Regions from separate parts of the Homo sapiens genome. Here region 2 is reported to be linked to region 1. The links are microRNA targets in miRTarBase. Many come from high-throughput screens and were not tested one by one. Region 1 holds a microRNA gene; the other region holds the end of a gene's coding sequence.

Region 1 (4,269 bases):
GCACTGGCCTGATCTGAGGGTTTCTTCTCCCTGGAGGCTCAGAAAGGTCTCTTACTCAGCATCTCTGTCTGCAAAAACATTTGTTTCAGGCACAAAAGGACCATCCCCATGTTTGTCCCAGAATCTACGTCTAAACTGCAGAAGTTTACAAGGTGAGTTTTGTACCCATAACCCCAGCCCCTCCTGATCTACTGGATGAATGGATGTCCCATTCTACCCCTCAGTTTGTGCCTGGTCGCCTCCTCAGATCTGCAAGCTGCTCCACCCACTGAGGACAAATAGAAACAGGTCCCCTGGGAGTGCTGAGTCACGGGGCTCCCTTCAGCCCTGTTCCAGCAGCAGAAGGCCGGGCGATTTTACCCTGTGCCCTGTGAAAAATCTTTGTGTCTGAGGGAGCAGAGGAAAAACTCTTGTCAGATGGGAAAAATGCTCATGACATAATGTGACATTAAAAGGTGGGAAACAAGAGGATATAGCAGTATGAGTCAGACACCTTGGAACAGTAATCATGATAAATGCCTTTACATGTGGGAGTCTCTGGCCGGAGCTGACATTTGCGCAGAGGCTTAGTGTGGAGGGAAGAGCCGGGGAAGAACATCAGGCACAGGGAACAGTGCCTGCCAGGCTGAGGAGAGCGTGAGCTTAGCATGCTAGAGAAGCCAGGACGGTGGTGTGGCCAGGACGGCAGTGTGGCCAGTAAGTGGTAAGCCAGGCAGAATGAGGGAGACATCAGGGAGGCAGGCAGGGGCCAGGACACAAGGGCCTGCAGGGAGGGCCCAGGGGATGCCTGGATGCAGCCCCAGCATGAAGGCCTCTTACCCCTGCTCACATCCAAGTGGGAGCTTAGAGGGCCAGCTGGGCCCTGGCCTTCTGACTCGAGGACCATTAGCGCAGTTGGGCAGCAAGCCTCTGCCGCCCACCGGCAGATTAGTGAGGCACAAGTGGAACATGGAGGACTCCCTGGGTTCCAGGGCAGCAGCCGGCAAGCAGCCCCTGCGAGCCTGGCCAGTACTGGGCGTGAGACCAGGCCAGAGCCCTGCTGGGTGGAGGGACAGCATCGCGCCCAGGGCCGAGAATGCTTCACTGAGCTCTGAGAGCCGTGGAGGGGAGGAAGGGCAGGGTCTCCGCTGGCCTCAGCCTGAGAATTTGTGTGCCTACTGCCCCTAGGAGTCCTTCTGGGAGGCCACCCTGTAGCAAAGGACTTCTTTCCCAGATGACCTGGGCCAGTATCACCTGGAGGTGACAATCCCCATGCCACAGGCTGTCAGGGAGGCAGCGAGGCAGTGCCCATCAGTGGGTTGGGAAAGCCTAAGAGACTGGGGACCCACACAGCCATCCAGGCTGGGTTATTCACCCTGTTCCACCGCCCACAGCTCCAAGGAGGACTTTGGGCCTCCAGGGGACAGCTCGCTGAGGAAAGGGTTTCACAGCCCCTGTGGAGGGGCTCGCAACTGGGCAAGGCAGTATGTGCTTGGATTACAAAAACTGGAGAAAGTTCTGATTAGTGAAGGCAGTTTGATTGGCAGAATCTTCCCAGATATGGAGGCTCCTTGCTCAGGCTGACACCTCGGTCATCCCCACCCCTCTCCCAGCCTCTCCCCACATCCTCCAGCGCTGGCCTAGGGCCTGCCCCAAACACTCTTGGCCACTGTATTCGTTTCCCACGGTGGCTGCTGCAACAAAACACACAAATGTGATAGCTGAAAACAGCAGAAATGTATGCTGAAGGCCAGAGTTCAAAATCCAGGTCACTGGGCCCAGAAAAGGCACCACAGGGCTGTGCTCCCTCCCAAGGCTCTAGGGGAGACTCTGTTTATTGCCCTTTCAGTTTCTGGTGGCCCCAGCCTTCCTTGGCTTGTGGCCTCATCACTCGAGTCCTGGCCTTTAGGGTCCACCTGGATAGTCGCCTCAAGATCCTTAGCCTAATCATATCTGTGCAAAGTGCACGTGACCCTGTTTCTCAATAAGGTCACGTGCACGGTTTCCCAGGACTAGGATCTGCTATCTTTGAGGGGCCGTCATTCAGCCTGCTGCCACCCCTCCAGTCTAGTCTTCACATAGCAAGAAAAACGGTGTTCCTAAAACACAACTGGGGCTGCACCCCTCCCCTGCTAGAACCTGTCTCTGTCAGAATGAACTTCAACCAGAATGCTGCCAGGCCGGTGGTCGGGCCCTGCCTACCTCATGGCCTCTGCCCACTTGCTTCCCATCTACCTCAGTTCCTGCAGTCTGAGGGGTCCTTCCTTGCCTCAGGTCCTTGCCTGGAATGCTCTCCCAGAACAGCCTGTCTTGTCTCCCCAACCCCAGCCAGCTAAGCAGACCACCCGGGTGGACCCCAGGAAAGAAATTCAGTGGGAACGGGAGCTCCATGTGAGCTCCGGGATGGGATCTGCTGGGCACAGTGGGGATGCTCCCAGGCCCCAGTCCTCATACATAGCCTCTTGTGAGGTGGGTGCTGTGAGAGTCTTGCTCTCCCAAAGGAGAAACTGAGGCGCAGGGGTTGTGGCTGCCCATCCCTTCCCCTTGGGGAGCGCCTGCTGGCTTTCACTCTCTGGCTCCCTCCTTGGGGTTGGGGGCTGGTGGGCAGTGCTCCCTGGCTGTGGTCTCCACAGGCCAACTCTGCGGCAGCTGAGAGCCCCTCCCTGGCCTGGGCCCCTCTGCAGCCGCCCCAGGTGAGCGCTGGTGCCCACCTCAGAGACGGAGAGGCCGCGGGGAGGGCGGTGCGTGGGCTTTTGGGTCGGCATGGTTGCCAGCGACCCTCGGGGCCGGGTGTGTCCGTGGGGGGACCTTGGGAGCTGTGGTACAGAGGAGGCGCGGCCGCGAGTCCCGGCGGGGCGAAGCCCGCGGCTGCTGGACCCACCCGGCCGGGAATAGTGCTCCTGGTTGTTTCCGGCTCGCGTGGGTGTGTCGGCGGCGGGGCCTGACACCCCCGGCCTCCTGGCCTCCCGCCTGGCCCAACTGGGGTCTGGGGCTGGGGAGGGCGCATGCTCAGCCTGGTGGCTGTGTGCCGCCCCTGGCAGGGCCTGCGGTGGGTGCCAAGATGGGAAGTGACATGTCCTGGACCCCACACTAGTGGGAGGTAAGGCTGAGGAGCCGTTCTGGCCCTTCTGCCCACCCCACAGACTCTCTGGGGTGGGACCCCCTTCCAGGGAGGCTGGAGGGTCACACTGTCCCCTCCCCTCCCCCACCTCAGCTGCTGTCACTTTTCTGGGATTTCTGGGGGTTCAGGTAGCACCCCCACCCCAGAATCTTCCTGAGCTCTCATTCCCAGTGAACCAAACCCATGGAAGCCAGAGATGGAAAAGCCTAACCGGCCAGCGGAGGCAGCGTGGCTGCAGAGCACATGAGGCCTGGCTAGGCTGTGTGACCTCGGCAAGGGACACCCCACGCTGGAGCCCAGCCACTGGGAAGGCTCTGCTTAGGGCCTGACTCCTGGTGGGGGTGGGGTGCGGTTGGAACAAGAGTGCTGGTTTCTGAACCGAGGAGAGCCCACATCCAGTGTCGTCCAAGACCAGGAATGCCCAGGTGGGGCCCTGCTCACCTGTGTTCTTCTGTGTTCCCAGCTGGTTCATGGGGCGGCGGCCCGAGTACACAGACCCCAAGGTGGTGGCTCAGGGTGAAGGCCGGGAAGGTAAAGCTCCCTCCCCTCTCTTACCCCCATCCCCCATACAGGTTACAGCCTGGGAGTGGGTGGGCCCAGGGTTGGGGTGAATGCCGGGGACCTGCCAGGCACATAGGAGCTAGCCCACAAATGTTCCCAGATGAGGGCCTGGTTGGAGCACAGAGGGTTTGTCATGTCTGCCTGTCCCGGCAGCCCCTTTACCTCCCAGTGAGGGGCTTGGGTCAGGCACTGTTGTCCCCATTTTACAGATGAGAACGCTGAGGCTGAGATTCCCAGATCAACCTGGGTCTCTCTCTGCCCCAGCCCAGCCTGGCTGATGCTGCCCTTCTGTCCCCAGTGACCCGTGTCCGTTCTCAGGGCTTTGTCACCCTCCTCTTCAACGTGGTGACCAAGGACATGAGGAAACTGGGCTATGACACTGGGCCTTCTGATACACAGGGTGTGTTGGGGCCCAGCCCACCCCAGAGCTTCCCCCAGTGAAGGCTCCACAGGCTGCACAGTCTCTGATAATGAAGGGCTGCCTTCCCGAAGTCAGCCGCTGCCCATCGGCCTGAGGGGCAGCCTGGTGGCCAGAGCTGGGGGCACACAGAATAGTTTTGTATAATAAAGTCTCATTTTCAGAGAGCCTAGGCCTGGGGCTGCCTTCT
Region 2 (3,000 bases), not on the chromosome of region 1:
CGCCCTACCCGCTGCCCGGCCTGCGTGGCCACGGCTACCACCCGCACGCGCATCCGCACCACCACCACCACCCCGTGAGTCCAGCCGCCGCGGCCGCCGCCGCCGCTGCCGCAGCTGCCGCGGCCGCCAACATGTACTCGTCGGCCGGAGCCGCGCCGCCCGGCTCCTACGACTATTGCCCCAGATAACACGGGCCCTGTCGCGCTCCCGCCCCGGTCCTGCACAGCCCCGAAGTTCGCCGGGCCCGGCCACCCTGCCCCAAGGGCAAGCAAGGAATACGTTCCCCCAGCCCCAGGGGCCACCGCGGCTCTCCCCTTCCCCAGCCTCGAAGCCATGGGGGCCCCCTCGCCACCCCCAGCCCCTTGGGCTATCGAAGTATCCGGTTCCCCAGTCCCTGGAGCCACCGCGGGTCCTTCCCCGGCCCCGAGGGCCAAGGGGGTCCCCGCCCGCCAGTGCCAAAGCGCCCGGTCGGAGGCGGAAGGAAGTGATATTTATTGTTCTCCCCGAGACCGCGTCGCCCGCGGCCCGGCCGGCAGTTGCAGTGTAGACAGCCCGAGAGCCCCGCCTGCAGGCGGTGTAGATACATGTAGATACTGTAGATACTGTAGATACCGCCCCGGCGCCGACTTGATAAACGGTTTCGCCTCTTTTGGAAGCCGCCTGCGTGTCCATTTATTTGTGCCCAGTTAGATCGCGTTGGGAATCTTCGGGACAGCGAGCCCGGGGTAGCTCAGGGCCCTCAGGGCCTCCCCAGCCCCAATCCCTGCCGACTGTAGGTCGGTCCCGGTCCCACAGCGCCCTGTCCGCCACGCCTCCTGCCCTCTGCCCGCCCCATAGGGGCTCCCACTGCCCCTCCCCTCTCCGAGGCCCCTCCTGCCAGGCCTGTGCACTCCCCCCACCTTCCCACCGTCCCGTCTCATCCCAACCTCCCCAGGGCTGGTGGTACCGCCCAGGTGTGCATCCTGCCTTTTTACTTAAATTCCTCCCACCTGCAGTTGTCCCTATTCTGGGACTTGGGCCTGCGCCCTGGCCTGTTTTCGGGACAGATGCTTGTGCTTTTCCATGGAAGCTGGGAAGAAGGGTCATGACAGACACTGCCGGTCGGTGCTGGGAGGGGGAGAAGCCCCTGACCGGGATGGGGTCATGGAAAGACAAAAACAGGCAGCACTGTTCTGCTAGCATTTCCCCTGCCGGCCTAGCCCAGGCCCGCATGTTCCCTCCTTAGTGACTTTATTTGCTGTGAGTGTCCCTACGGAGTGACCTGGCCAGGGGGCACAATGACAGTAGCCATGAGTCATCTTGAGACCTGTGTATGAAGCATTTTTCCCAGGCCAGGTGGCTAAGGGACCTCTCCCCGTTAACTCAACACCAGGGATGGGGCGAGAGGAACTCTTTGATCCCTCCCTTCCTGAGCGCAAGCAGGAAGGGCTGACAGCCGGTCAGCGCCAAGGCTGCTGACTTGGACACAAGATGAACGGGAAGTGCACGTGGCCGAGGCTCTGTCCCCCACCTCCCGTGCCTGTCCCAGTGTGTTTGTGGCAACTGCTGCCTTCTAGGCCACTCGGCTCATCACCCCACGTGGTAGCGGCAGCCTGAGTGCCACCTCTCCGAGGGCACAGCCAGGAGTTTCCAGATGTCCACCCTCGCGGACCTGTTTTTCGTATACATGTTTGCTCTGGCGGCGTGAAGTGAGTGGGGTCTTAGTAATTGAATGGCAGGAACCATTCCCAGAGGCCAGTCTAGGGTGGGAGGGGGTCTCCAGGGGCCATCCAAAGCCTCAAAGGGCATCTAGCACCAGAGAGTGAGGACCTCTGCAGCATCTGCCCAGGCTCCGTGAGCACGGCTTTGGAGATGCATTTGGGGGGACGGCTGTGGATGCCCATTCCCAAGTCCTGATCCCCACCTGCGTGAACTTGGGGCAGCCATTACCCATGTGCCCCACGGTGGGTGGGGCTTTGCACTGCAGAGGGCCTCCCTCTCTTGCTGTCAGAAGGCAGCCATTCCGTACTCCACATCCAGGATGTGCGGAGGGGCTGCCATTCGAGACCTCCGCCTTGGTTTTGTTCAGAGCTAAAGGGAGGAAAAGCCCTCCCCTGAACAAAGAGCAAACACAGTGTTTGTAAATGAGGGTGGGACACACAGCAATGTGCAAGGACCCTGAGTGTGCAGCAAACTGGCCTGTTACCGTGCCCCTCCTGTTGGGATGGCCATGCAAGATGGAGCACCCAGCCGTCCAGCAGGGCCGCCGCTGGCCATCCGGGGCTGTTCGCATTCTTTTTTTTTTTTTTTTTTTTTTTTTGAGACTGAGTCGCGCTCTGTCGCCCAGGCCGGAATGCCGTGGTGCGATCTCGGCTCACTGCAACCTCCGCCTCCTGGGTTCAAGTGATTTCTTTTGCTTCAGCCTCAGAGTAGCTGGGACTACAGGAATGTACCACCATGCCCGGCTAATTTTTGTATTTTTAGTAGAGACGGGGTTTCACCATGTTGGCCAGGCTGGTCTCGAACTCCTGACCTCAGGTGACCCGCCTGCCTTGGTCTTCCAAAATGCTGGGCTTTCAGGCATGAGCCATCACACTCGGCCACACGTCCTAATGAACTAGGATTCATTAAACATTCAGGTCCTCACTGGCCCCATTCCAGGTGCTCCGTGGCTCACAGGCCGCGGGTCACCACACTGCTGCTGTTGCTGCTGAGGGCACTCCCACGCTGGGCAGTGGCCCCCAGAAGTGTGGGTTTCCTCCCCTCCACCTTTGTAGATGAGTTTGTGCATCTGAGAACTTCTTGTAAATGAGAGCTCGCAGGCCGGCGTCTGGGTGGCAGCTTCCGCTGGCTGTGTGTCTGCAAGACTGGCGCACGCCGCTGCTCACCGTCCCTCATGTGCTCAGTCCTCAACCAGTGCCCAGTGATTGCCTGCCCGCTGCGGGGGCTGTCTGGCTGATGCCCCAGCCACTACCGTTCCTGTGGAGGTGACGTTCCCATGGGCAGCTGCCCTAAGGCCTG

The links. The annotated mature microRNA hsa-miR-1180-3p reads UUUCCGGCUCGCGUGGGUGUGU and lies in region 1 at 2,887-2,908, shown strand. An mRNA with a match to its seed (bases 2 to 7 or 8) in the 3' UTR can be bound and repressed. Matches are read on the target gene's strand: a 7mer-m8 pairs with bases 2 to 8, a 7mer-A1 pairs with bases 2 to 7 and ends in A, and an 8mer does both.
Region 2: the mRNA of TBX1 is a reported target of hsa-miR-1180-3p. The part of its 3' UTR that is shown has no 7-base or 8-base seed match.

Annotation. Positions count from the first base shown.
Region 1 is chr17:19,343,152-19,347,420 of GRCh38, reverse strand. MIR1180 (microRNA 1180) reads left to right here and starts at 2,847; the gene lies at 2,847-2,915. It overlaps B9D1 (B9 domain containing 1), which reads left to right. Exons shown (of 7, transcript NM_015681.6): 5 at 90-152; 6 at 3,564-3,631; 7 at 3,960-4,246. The coding sequence ends at 4,102. RefSeq lists an enhancer at 1,531-1,825 and a silencer at 1,531-1,825.
Region 2 is chr22:19,766,680-19,769,679 of GRCh38, forward strand. TBX1 (T-box transcription factor 1) reads left to right here. Exons shown (of 7, transcript NM_001379200.1): 7 at 1-655. The coding sequence ends at 188. Among named protein-coding and RNA genes, the nearest start is that of TBX1, 7.4 kb to the left of the region's middle.